Regions from separate parts of the Homo sapiens genome. Here region 1 is linked to region 2. The links come from fine-mapping of genetic effects on gene expression. A gene starts in region 2. The other region holds a variant in brackets. All regions are shown on one strand. Distances are from middle to middle. Region 1 overlaps OXA1L-DT (OXA1L divergent transcript). Region 2 holds the start of OXA1L-DT (OXA1L divergent transcript).

Region 1 (5,381 bases), 33 kb after region 2:
TAATGCAGGAGCTGAAGGGAAATTTGCACAATAAATGATTACATTTACAGATATTTTGGTGCCTTAATGTCAGCAAGGGTTGCACAATGAGTTTCAACATGCATGCATTCTGGAGATGTATAGAAATTCTAGTTACTGGCCGGGCGCGGTGGCTCACGCCTGTAATCCTAGCACTTTGGGAGGCCGAGACGGGCGGATCACGAGGTCAGGAGATCGAGACCATCTTGGCTAACACGGTGAAACCCCGTTTCTACTAAAAATACAAAAAATTAGCCGGGCGTGTTGGCGGGCGCCTGTAGTCCCAGCTACTTGGGAGGCTGAGGCAGGAGAATGGCATGAACCTGGGAGGCGGAGCTTGCAGTGAGCCGAGATCGCGCCACTGCACTCCAACCTGGGAGACACAGCGAGACTCCGTCTCAAAAAAAAAAAAAAAAAAAAAGAAATTCTAGTTACTTACAAATTTTAAGTTGAGAAAAGGCCTGGAACCAGATGCCTTTAGATAAGAGGGAAGTTTAATTACTTCTAAATTCCTCAGATAAGGAGTTTTTGTCTCCAGGGCCTGCTAGATGGTCACCAGGTGATTTGCTGTTTTCATTTTTTCCCTGACAGACATTTTGGTCAAATCTTTGGCCCTTTATGTTCCCTCATGATCATGGCTACCTGCTGCCTATTGGGGTCTCAAGAGAGGGAAAATGGCACAGTGAAGAGGGGTGACAAGTACGTCTGGCTATTTCCTGCTGAAAAGGGGTGTTAAGGGTTTCGGTTGAGTTTTTCCCTTTCTTGCTCTCTGTCATGAAGGGAATGAAGGGTCATGAAAGACTTGTGGGGAAGACTGAATTCCATCAAGAGACCCCATGTGAATGGAAGTTGCTGTTGCAGGCTGGTATTGGGATTGCATAGCCATCTGTAGGTGGAATTGTTTTAATATCAAAGATGTAAACTTAACGAGAGCATTAAAAAGGCAGGGACCAAATATTAAAAGAATGACAAGGAATAAAGGTCCAGAATGGGAGAAGCCAAGTGATTTTTGGAGAGCAATCAGTAAAGGTTCTGGCCCAGTCTTGGCTACTTTGGGAAGGTGTGTGTAGCCACTTGGCTTATTAAAAAATTTTTTGGACATTGGAAGTTCCACTTCTCCATACACATTAATGTAGGTGCAACAGGTTTTGTTGATGACAGCACAGACTCCTCCTTGTTCAGCTATTAGATAATCCAGAGCTCATCTGTTATCAAACACCATTCCTGCTAGCGAGTCTAAAGACTTTTCTATTGCTGATAGACTTGCACCAGTTTTTGCTAAGGCTATTTCAAGGGAGACAGTATGTCCTTGTAGTGTGATTTCATGGTAAGCAAAACCCCCTCAAGGGGTGAGTGTTGCAATCGTTCCCACAACTCCAGCCATAATAAGTCCTAGGGCTCCCTTTCTTCTAGAATGGAATTCTGAATTGGAAGTTATATTCAAGACAGTGATTTGGATGGGAACTATTGTTCTCAGAGTGCAATCACCATAATGAAGAGAATTATCAAGGTGGGATAGGGCCAAAGCTTGAAAAGAGTTTAAATAATTATTGGCAGTGCCACAAAGCCCTAAGAGCCCAGGAGGAGCAGGTAATATAGTTGGAGGCTTTTTGGACTAAGAGGGCCACTGCAGCTTTTTTTTTTTCCCTCCCCATATGGAGTTTTTGTCTGTTGCCCAGGCTGGAGTGCAATGGCACAATCTCGGCTCACTGCAACCTCCGCCTCCCAGGTTCAAGCAATTCTCCTGCCTCAGCCCCCCGAGTAGCTGGGATTACAGGTGCACACCACACCCAGCTAATTTTTATATATTTTTTTAGTAGAGACGGGGTTTCACCATGTTGGCCAGGCTGGTCTCGAACTCCTGACCTTGTGATCCTCCCACCTCAGTCTCCCAAAGTGCTGGGATTATAGGCGAGAGCCACCGTGCTTGGACCACTGCTATTTTTAAGTAGGGGTGCCATCCCTGGGGTACCAAGTCTAAAGTTTTTGAAAAATATTCTGTAGGGCACTTAGAGGGCTCCAGATCTTGGTCTAAGACTTCCAAAGCGATTCCCTTTTGTTTGTGTACATACAAAAAGAAAGGCTTAGTCAGATCTGGTAAGGCTAGGGCTGGGGCTGAGATTAAAGCCTGTTTAAAAGTGTTTAGAGCATGTTTCATATCATTAGTCCATGTTAGAGGCTGTTCCTCAGTTCCCTTGAAAGCTTCATATAAAGATTTTGCTATTAATCTGAAGGAAGGAATCCATATTAAACCTGACTCTACCCAGAAAGGACCAAAGCTGTTGTTTATTTACTAGAGTTGTCATGTTTAAGATCTTTACGAGCACTAGAGAGGCTCTTTGTACCAAGGGTTAAGATAAGACCCCAAAATTGAACTCTTTGTGTGGGTGTTTTGGCCTTAGAAGAAGATAATTTGTATTCACAATCAGCAAGTTTGTTTAGTACTAATACTGTATTTTGGTCTGAAACAGCCTCGTTAGGACTACAGATTAGTAGGTCATCCACATACTGGAGCAGATTGCTATATGGGAGAAGCTGCAGGGTGGACAAGTCCCTAGCTAGAGCCTGTCCAAAAAGGTGGAGGCTATCTCTGAATCCCTGGGGCAGAACTGCATGAGTTAATGGTTGAGTTATTTGTGTATGTGGATATTGCCATTCAAAAGTGAACGAAATTTGGCTATCTTGGTGTACAGGAATGCAAAAAAGTCATCCTTAAGATCAAGTATGATAAACCAAGCTGTGGTGGTGGGAGTTTGTCCAAAAAGTGTGTAAGAATTTGGGACAATAGGATGAATAGAAATTACAGCTTCATCAGTGATTCTAGGGGCTGGGTGTGGTGGCCCATGCCTGTAATCCCAGCACTTTGGGAGGCTGAGGCAGGCGGATCACCTGAGGTCAGGAGTTTGAGACCAGCCTGACCAACATGGAGAAACCCCTTCTCTACTAAAAATACAAAATTAGCCAGGCGTGGTGGCGCATGCCTGTAATCCCAGCTACTCGAGAGGCTGAGGCAGAAGAATCTCTTGAACCTGGGAGGCGGAGGTTGCGGTGAGCCGAGATCAAGCCATTGCCCTCCAGCCTGGGCAACAAGAGCGAAACTCCGTCTCAAAAATAGTAATAGTAATAATAATAATAATTATAATAATAATAATAATTCTAGGCCAGGGGCAGTGACTCACCCCTCTAAGCCCAGCACTTAGGGAGGCCGAGGAGGGCAGATCACAAGGTCAGGAGATCAAGATCATCCTGGCCAACATGGTGAAACCCCATCTCTACTAAAAATACAAAAATTAGCTGGGTGTCAGTGGCCCACACCTGTAATCCCAGCTACTCAGGAGGCTGAGGCAGGAGAATCGCTTAAACT[C/T]GGCAGGTGGAGGTTGCAGTGAGCCAAGATCACGTCACTGGACTCCAGCCTGGGTGGCAGAGCAAGACTCTGTCTCAAAAAAAAAAAAAAAACAACAAAAAAAACCCAGAGCAACTTGGTAGGACTAAAAAGGAGTGGGTAAAGAAATAGCCTTCCATTTTTCAAGGGAGTGGCTGTGTGAAACAGCCTCATTGGGGTTTTTCGTCAATGCCCGTGAGGAATATGGAGGACTGGCACATTTGGTCAACATTTGAAGCTGAACCCTGTATCTATGAGGAACATTATTTCTTGTTCAGCCACAGCTGGATTGACTGAGGCTCCTCCATAGAGTTGGAAAAGGTAAGGGCCTGGATGGCCTCAAGGCCCCATCAGTCATCTAGGGGATGACTTTCAGAGGCTCGATCATAATCCAGGAATAGAGTTAGAGGTGCTTGTGCTTGCCCTTGCCCTTGTCCTCTTTCTGCAGGACCCCCTTGTTGGGTAGGTTGGTGAGGTTGTGGCTGCGACGGCCCAGAAGGAGGAGGTGGCCCCTCCTCATGAGGGAGAGAAGGACACTCGCTGTTCCAATGACCCTCTTGTTTACAATGAGGACAGGATCCTGGGGGCAGCTTTGTAACCTGGAGGTTTGGAATGTTCTCTACGCCAATATCCTGGATTTCTGCAGTGATGACAGGCCCCCATTCTGTTAGTATTATAGGGACATGCCTTGGGGTTATTAACTAACGAAAAAGAACGTGTCAATGCTGTGTTACCACATAATTAGCTTGGCGATGGCATTGTTCTTCCTCCAATTGAGTCTTTTTTATTTTTGAGGTTTCCTCCCAGTTATTGAAAACCTTAAAGGCTGTATTTAATAAAGTCGGAAAGGGAATCTGTGGGCCTTGCTCTAATTTTTGGAGTTTTTGTCTGATGTCTGGGGAAGCCTGACTTATAAAATGTATGGCCAGAGTGAACTGGCCCTCAGGGCTTTCAGGATCTAAATTTGTATATTTATGTATGGCCTCCACCAGTCTAATTTGGAAAAGGGTGGGGTTCTCAGATGGCTGCTGGGTAATTTCCGGTAATTTAGAAAAATTGGCCCGGTGCAGTGGCTCACGCCTGTAATTCCAGGACTTTAGGAGGCTGAGACAGGTGGATCATGAGGTCAGGAGTTCAAGACCAGCTTGGCCAAGATGGTGAAACCCCGTCTCTATTAAAAATACAAAAAAATTAGCCGGGCGTGGTGGCATGCACCTGTAATGCCAGCTATTCTGGAGGCTGAGGCAGAGAATTGCTTAAACCCAGGAGGTGGAGGTTGCAGTGAGCCGAGGTTGCGCCACTGCACTCCAGCCTGGGCGACAGAGTGAGACTCCATCTCAAAAAAAAAAAAAAAAAAAGAAAAGAAAAAGAAAAAAGAAAAATTAATAGGTTTTATTACAGGCTTTTTCATTCCTTCCAACAAGCAAGCTATCATGTAATCCCGCCTCTGTTTGGGCTGGCATCAGCAGCCTGATATTGCCAGCTGGTTTCTGTGTTGTGGTCACCTATTGCCCTGGCTCTATTACCATTAATTATGAGCATGAGCTTCATCTGCCCAAAAACTCAAGCTAAAGACCATATGCATGATTTTTCTTTGTGGGAACAACAAGTAGTTAATACCACATACATGTCTTGCCAGGTTAAATCAAAGGCAATAGTCAAAAGCCCACAATTCTTTAATGAGCTTAAAGGGATCCTGGCTAAATGAACCCAACTTGGATTAAATTTGTGAAAGGGACATGACTTGAATTGTTCCCAAGTTTCCATTTGTCACCTCATGGAAAGGCAAAACATTATTGGGATATTCTGAGGACTCTGTACTAGTGGCATATGTGACTCCCATGAGAGTATGTGAGGGGGATGAAGTGTCTGGATATGGAGGGGCGTTGACTCGGGGATGGAGCAAATGGAGAGGGTATAGGTGAAGCAGGTGCAGGCTGAGGAGAGTGTGACAGGCAAAAGGAAAGATCATCTACGACAT
Region 2 (5,381 bases):
TTGTCCATTCTATGACTCATGCCTAAGAGGCCCAGAAATAAGGTCAGGGGAATGAATTAGTTGCTTTAAGGCTCAGTTCTCTAATTTGGCATCACAAAAGTATGGCATTAACTTCTCTAAGCAGATGATTAGGAATCCTGTTTGTTTCCTCAAACAAAAAGCTGACAGGAGTGGATTTAGCAATTATGTTACTGGCAGTTCGAATGAGGTGATATGAGTAAAAGCCAGACGGCTGAGGGAGTAAATGGAAAGAAGTAGGCTAATTGGATGCAGAGCAGTCTTTTAAGTAACAGCTATCAAAAGAATGAAACCCAGTCATCTGTGACAACGTGGATGGAACTGGAGATCACTATGTTAAGTGAAATAAGGCAAGCACAGAAAGACGAACATCGCCATGTTCTCACTTATTTGTGAGATCTAAAAATCAAAACAAATGAAATCATGGGCAGAGAGTAGAAGGAAGGTACCAGAGGCTGGGAAGGGTAGTCAGGGTTGGGAATAGTTAATGGGTAAAAAAAAGTTAGAATAAGATCTACTATTGATTGCACAACAGGGTGACTATAGTCAGTAATAATAGCATATTTTTAAATAAAGAACGTAAAAATTAGCCAGGTGTGGTGGCACACCTGTAGTCCCAGCTACTTGAGAGGCTGAGACATGAGAATCGCTAGAACCTGGGAGGTGGAGGTTGCAGTGAGCTGAGACTGCACCACTGCACTCCAGCCTGGGTGACAGAGCAAGACTCCGTTTAAAAAAATAAATAAAATAAAAAATAAAATAAAAGTGTAATTGGATTGTTTGTAACTTAAAGGATAAATGCTTAAGGGGATGGATATCTCATTCTCCATAATGTGATTATTACACCTTGCATGCCTCTATCAAAACATCTCATGTAGCCCATAAATATATACACCTACTAGGTATCCACAAAAATTAACAACAACAAAATAAATAACAGCCATCAAAGGAAGAAGATAGGATAGTAAGTGAAGGGGAACTAAGGATGAAGGGAAGAAACCTTCCCCCAGGTAACACATGGGTGTGCCTGAGCATGTTTACATGTTCGGGGTAGGGCAGTGAGGAGGGAAATGCTGAAGACACAGGGGAGAAAAGATAATTGATGGAGCAACGTGGCAGAAAGACACATAATTCAAAGCAGAGTTCTAGCCTTTACAAAAGCAATGCTAGTGGCTTCCCAATTTAGGGGTTTAAGTGCCTGACCTGAACCTCTGTTCTAAACCAGGATAGCTTCATGACTGTTAATAAGGTCCCCTGACTCTAACCCCATGTTTGTATTCAAATATCTACACTTCTTGAATCCCAGATGATCTGGTGGTTTTATAATGCTCTTTAAGAAATATAGGCAGAGTGCATCTAGGTATCATGAACCTCTATTGCTCATTTGAAATCATCTGCTCTTCTGACCCCAGAGCTTCTGCAACTACTTCCTGAATCCATTCAAAGAATTGCCATCTATGAGGTTAAATCCCTAACCCATGTCCAGGGTATATTCCCCTTACATGCAGCAATGGCCCCCCACCAAGGTAGGCCCAGATCAACATGCATAAATTCCAGTAAATTCTGGATCAGTCCCACTGGGGTGTATGACCCCAGCCCCAGTTCAGCGAAGCTCTGCTCTGCAGCAGTTTGGACTACATCTGCAGTCTCTCCAGAAGCCACCTCAGGTACTGCTGTGGGTGAGGGAGTTGCAGCAACAACAGGAGGGGCCTGAACCTGTGTGAAAGAAAGCCTTGTATTATATTTATTCAGTAGCGAACACAAAGCAAGTGAGATCTTTTTATAATAACCAGTACTGGGTTCTGTTCTCTCTACTTCTTGTTCTTCCAGGTTAGCCTAGTGTCTGCAGATTTCAAGCTTAAAAAGGACATCTCATTTTTATCAATAGTTAGGAAGAGAAGTTACTTTGAGTAAGAATCCATGACTTCCCTTCATGCTGGGAAGTTATTTCTTTTATCACTGTTTTCCAAACTTCAGCCATTTGAATATCACTATCATGATTTTTGCCATATATTAACATGAAACAATTGCTTTTCTTTAAAACAGCTCAGAAAACCAAATATAACATCTCTCCTGTTGTACTTTCAATCATTTCCCCACTGAATTGAAAATCCATCCTAAGCAGAGATGCTATCATTTTGGAGAGCTGTGTGGAGCGTGGACAAGAACTCTGCTCCATATTCCCCCTGCTCCCAAACAAAACAAAATATGAAACCAACCAGGAAACACCACTCCTAATATTGCAGGAACGAAAGGCCTCTTACCTGGACTTCTGCAAAAGAGATAGCAGAGGTACTGAGGCTGCGGGGGCCGGAAGCCGCAAGGAAGAGGTAGTGTGGGCGACAGCAGCACGGGGCTGCTGGGAATAGGAGCCGTGTGGTCAGCGGTTTCCCAAGCCATTGCGAGGGCCCTGCGACGCTGTGGACCTGAGCGTGTAAAAGGATGATGGAGCCCCTTTACCGGGAGCAGAAGTCCTCGCGTGGGTGCAAACGGGATTCATTATGCTAACTCCCCAAGAAGCAGGCAGCTCGGCCACTACAGGGGAGGACATTGCTATCACCGCGCGCAGACCGCTAGCCCGAAGGCATGCAGCGGGTGGTGCCTGCAGAGCGAAGCTCGAACCTGGGTTCCCCGCATCTCAGTTATCGCAGACCCACATCGGAGGGCCCTGAGAACGAGGCCGAGGTGCTCTCGCCAGGAGCCAAGCCAATTCCAGAAGCTGACACCGGGCTGCTGGGCCCATAGTGTCGGGGACTAACCCTAGCGCGTCCTCACATGACCCGAGGTCATGACATTCAGGTCCCGGTGAGCAGGTCAGCGTCTGCTGATACCCCTAGCACGAGCTGTCCTGGGGCCTGGTTCACTGGGTCAGGGCAGCATCCCGGTGCTCTGCCCCGGGGCATCCTTACCCGACGCCCGGACTGTAGCAAGCGCAGAAGCTCCCGGCGTCCGCACATTAGTCCCATCGCCATTTTGCCCGGAAGAGGACTTGCTTTTGCGCCTGCGCAGTAAGAACCACAACCCCTCGAGAGGAAGCACTTTTGGAGGCGGGCATGAAGCCAGAATTGTAGCCGCAGATCAGGCGGTAAAAGAGAACGGAGCTTGGCGGCCATATTTGAAGTGGGTAAAAATCTGTAAAGCCACGTTACCATTAGCACGCAGAGAGCCTTTTCTGGAGATTGAAAGGAAGTTGAAGAGCTGGGTTAGCTATCATCGTAAGCTATCATCGTTAGTGATGGCGTAAACCTGGGTAATTTTCCTCTAATGTCGCGATTGTCCTCTGATTTGTAAGTTTAAAAATAGCCTCAGAAAAGGCTTGGCTGTACTTGCAGAGGATTTTTCCCACTCAATGATGTTCGATTCTTTTGATTCTTATTGCTAGGTAATATTGTAATCGCAGGTCCAGTGAAATTTGAGGGTAGTCTAGAGTCTGACAGAAATTAAAAGAAGGCAGCTTCTGGGAAATATTTTCCTCCCAGATAAAAAGACGAAGCTTCCAGAGGAGACTTCACCTTTCCATTTTTTTCTTCTGTAAGTGGGGTGGTGTGAGGACTGACCATGAGGGGACAAGTTTCCAGATGAAAAGCTCACGTGCAGGCCGGGCGCGGTGGCTCAGGTCTGTAATCCCAGTACTTTGGGAGGCCGAGGTGGGTGGATCACGAGATCAGGAGGTCGAGACCATCCTGGCCAACATGGTGAAACCCCATTTCTACTAAAAATACAAAAATTAGCCGGGCGTGGTGGTGGGCGCCTGTAATCCCAGCTACTCGGGAGGCTGAGGCAGGAGAATCACTTGAACCCGGGATGCAGAGGTTGCAGTGAGCCGGGATTGTGCCACTGCACTCCAGCCTGGGCAACAAGAGCGAGACTCCGTCTCAAAAAAAAAAAAAAAAAGGAAAGAAAAACTCACGTGCTGAAGATGGTTGAGGGCAAAGATAGAAAACACCCAAATACTTGATGATATCATTGAGCTGCTGTACCATGCTTGGAACTGCCTATCTCCAGACTTTGTTGTGTAAGTTAATTAAAGGTCTTGGCCGGGTGCAGTGGCTCATACCTGTAATCTCATCACTTTGGGAGGCTGAGGTGGTCTCGATAACTAGGTCAAGAGATCGAGACCAGCCTGGCCAACATGGTGAAATCCTGTCTCTACTAAAAATACAAAAAACAAAAAAACAAAATAACTAGGCGGGCGTGGTGGTGCATACCTGTAGTCCCAGCTACTAGGGAGGCTGAGGCAGGAGAATCGCTTGAATCCGGGAGGTGGAGGTTGCAGTGAGCCGAGGTGGAGCCACCTCACTCTAGCCTGGGCGACAGACTCCATCTCAAAAAAAAAAAAAAAAAGATGATTAAAGGTCTTTACTGTTTAGACTCTAAGTCTGTTGCTTGGGTGTTCTGTTTCTTGAAGTTAAAAGCATTCATCTTCAGGGAAAAAAGTTACTGGTCAGAAAGGTGGAGTTTGATTATGTTTGAACCCTTACAAAGTCTCTCAATATGCAGATTACTTTCTAAACAACAAATTATAGTTTCAGAAAGATACAATAACCTGAAATTATTTCAGTGACTGCTCATTTGGAACGATTATGAATGTACCTGACAGATATGGCGAAAATAGGAGGCAAAGAACTATAATACTGATTTAGTAATAATTAGTGGTATGAGCTAACACTTGCATATGTTGGATGCTATTATAAACATCAATAGATTTTTGATATGGAAACACTGATTTTTTTTTAGAGATTACTTTTAAAACTCAATACAATTAGAAGTAATTACAAATATACAGCTACAGAACACTTGGCAGGGTGACTATCTTACAGTACACTGCTACTTTGGTGGCCCCAAATGAACCAGGCTTCCCAATATTTGCACCTTTAGGAGTTCTCTTCTCTTGAGTCTGATTGGGCCTGTCACTTGCTTTAATCAATAGTAGAATGCGTTGGAAGTGATGTTATGCCAGTTTGGGACTATGCCTTAAGAAGGCCTGATAGCTTCTGTTTTTGCATTCGGGGGAAGCCAGCTGCTGTGTTAGAAGTTTGACTTCTCAGACTTACTGCCTGTGAAAAGCCCAACCAACCATGTGAAGAAGAACTGAGGTTTGGGCCAACAGCCTCAGTTGAACTCCCAGCCAGCAGTCAACACCAACTTTTGCCAGCCACGTGAAGAAGGCCATTTAAAAAGTGGATTCTCCAGCCCACTGGAGCCACCTCAGGTGACTGCGTGTGGAGCAAAGAAAGGCTATTTGAGCCCACATTGCAAAATTACAAGCAAATAAATAAAATTATTGTAGTTTTAAGCCACTAAGTTGTTTAATAATAGATAGCTAAAATGTACAGGCAAACTTGGAAGATACTGTGGGTTGG

What was found. PIP is the estimated chance that this variant, and not a neighbour inherited with it, causes the effect.
Region 1: its variant is the best candidate, but not a certain one, in a credible set for the expression of OXA1L-DT in lung (TOPMed, PIP 0.71).

The regions. Positions count from the first base shown.
Region 1 is chr14:22,731,270-22,736,650 of GRCh38, reverse strand. The region is part of intron 1 of OXA1L-DT (OXA1L divergent transcript); the gene reads left to right. Among named protein-coding and RNA genes, the nearest start is that of OXA1L-DT, 33 kb to the left of the region's middle. The variant C/T (reference allele first, on the strand shown) is at 3,383.
Region 2 is chr14:22,764,311-22,769,691 of GRCh38, reverse strand. It overlaps OXA1L-DT (OXA1L divergent transcript), which reads left to right and starts at 3,130. Exons shown (of 3, transcript XR_001750638.3): 1 at 3,130-3,268. OXA1L (OXA1L mitochondrial inner membrane insertase) reads right to left here and starts at 3,004. Exons shown (of 10, transcript NM_005015.5): 1 at 2,928-3,004; 2 at 2,283-2,444; 3 at 1,521-1,734. The coding sequence starts at 2,990. RefSeq lists enhancers at 2,896-3,125, 2,719-3,282, 3,283-3,845, 3,846-4,409.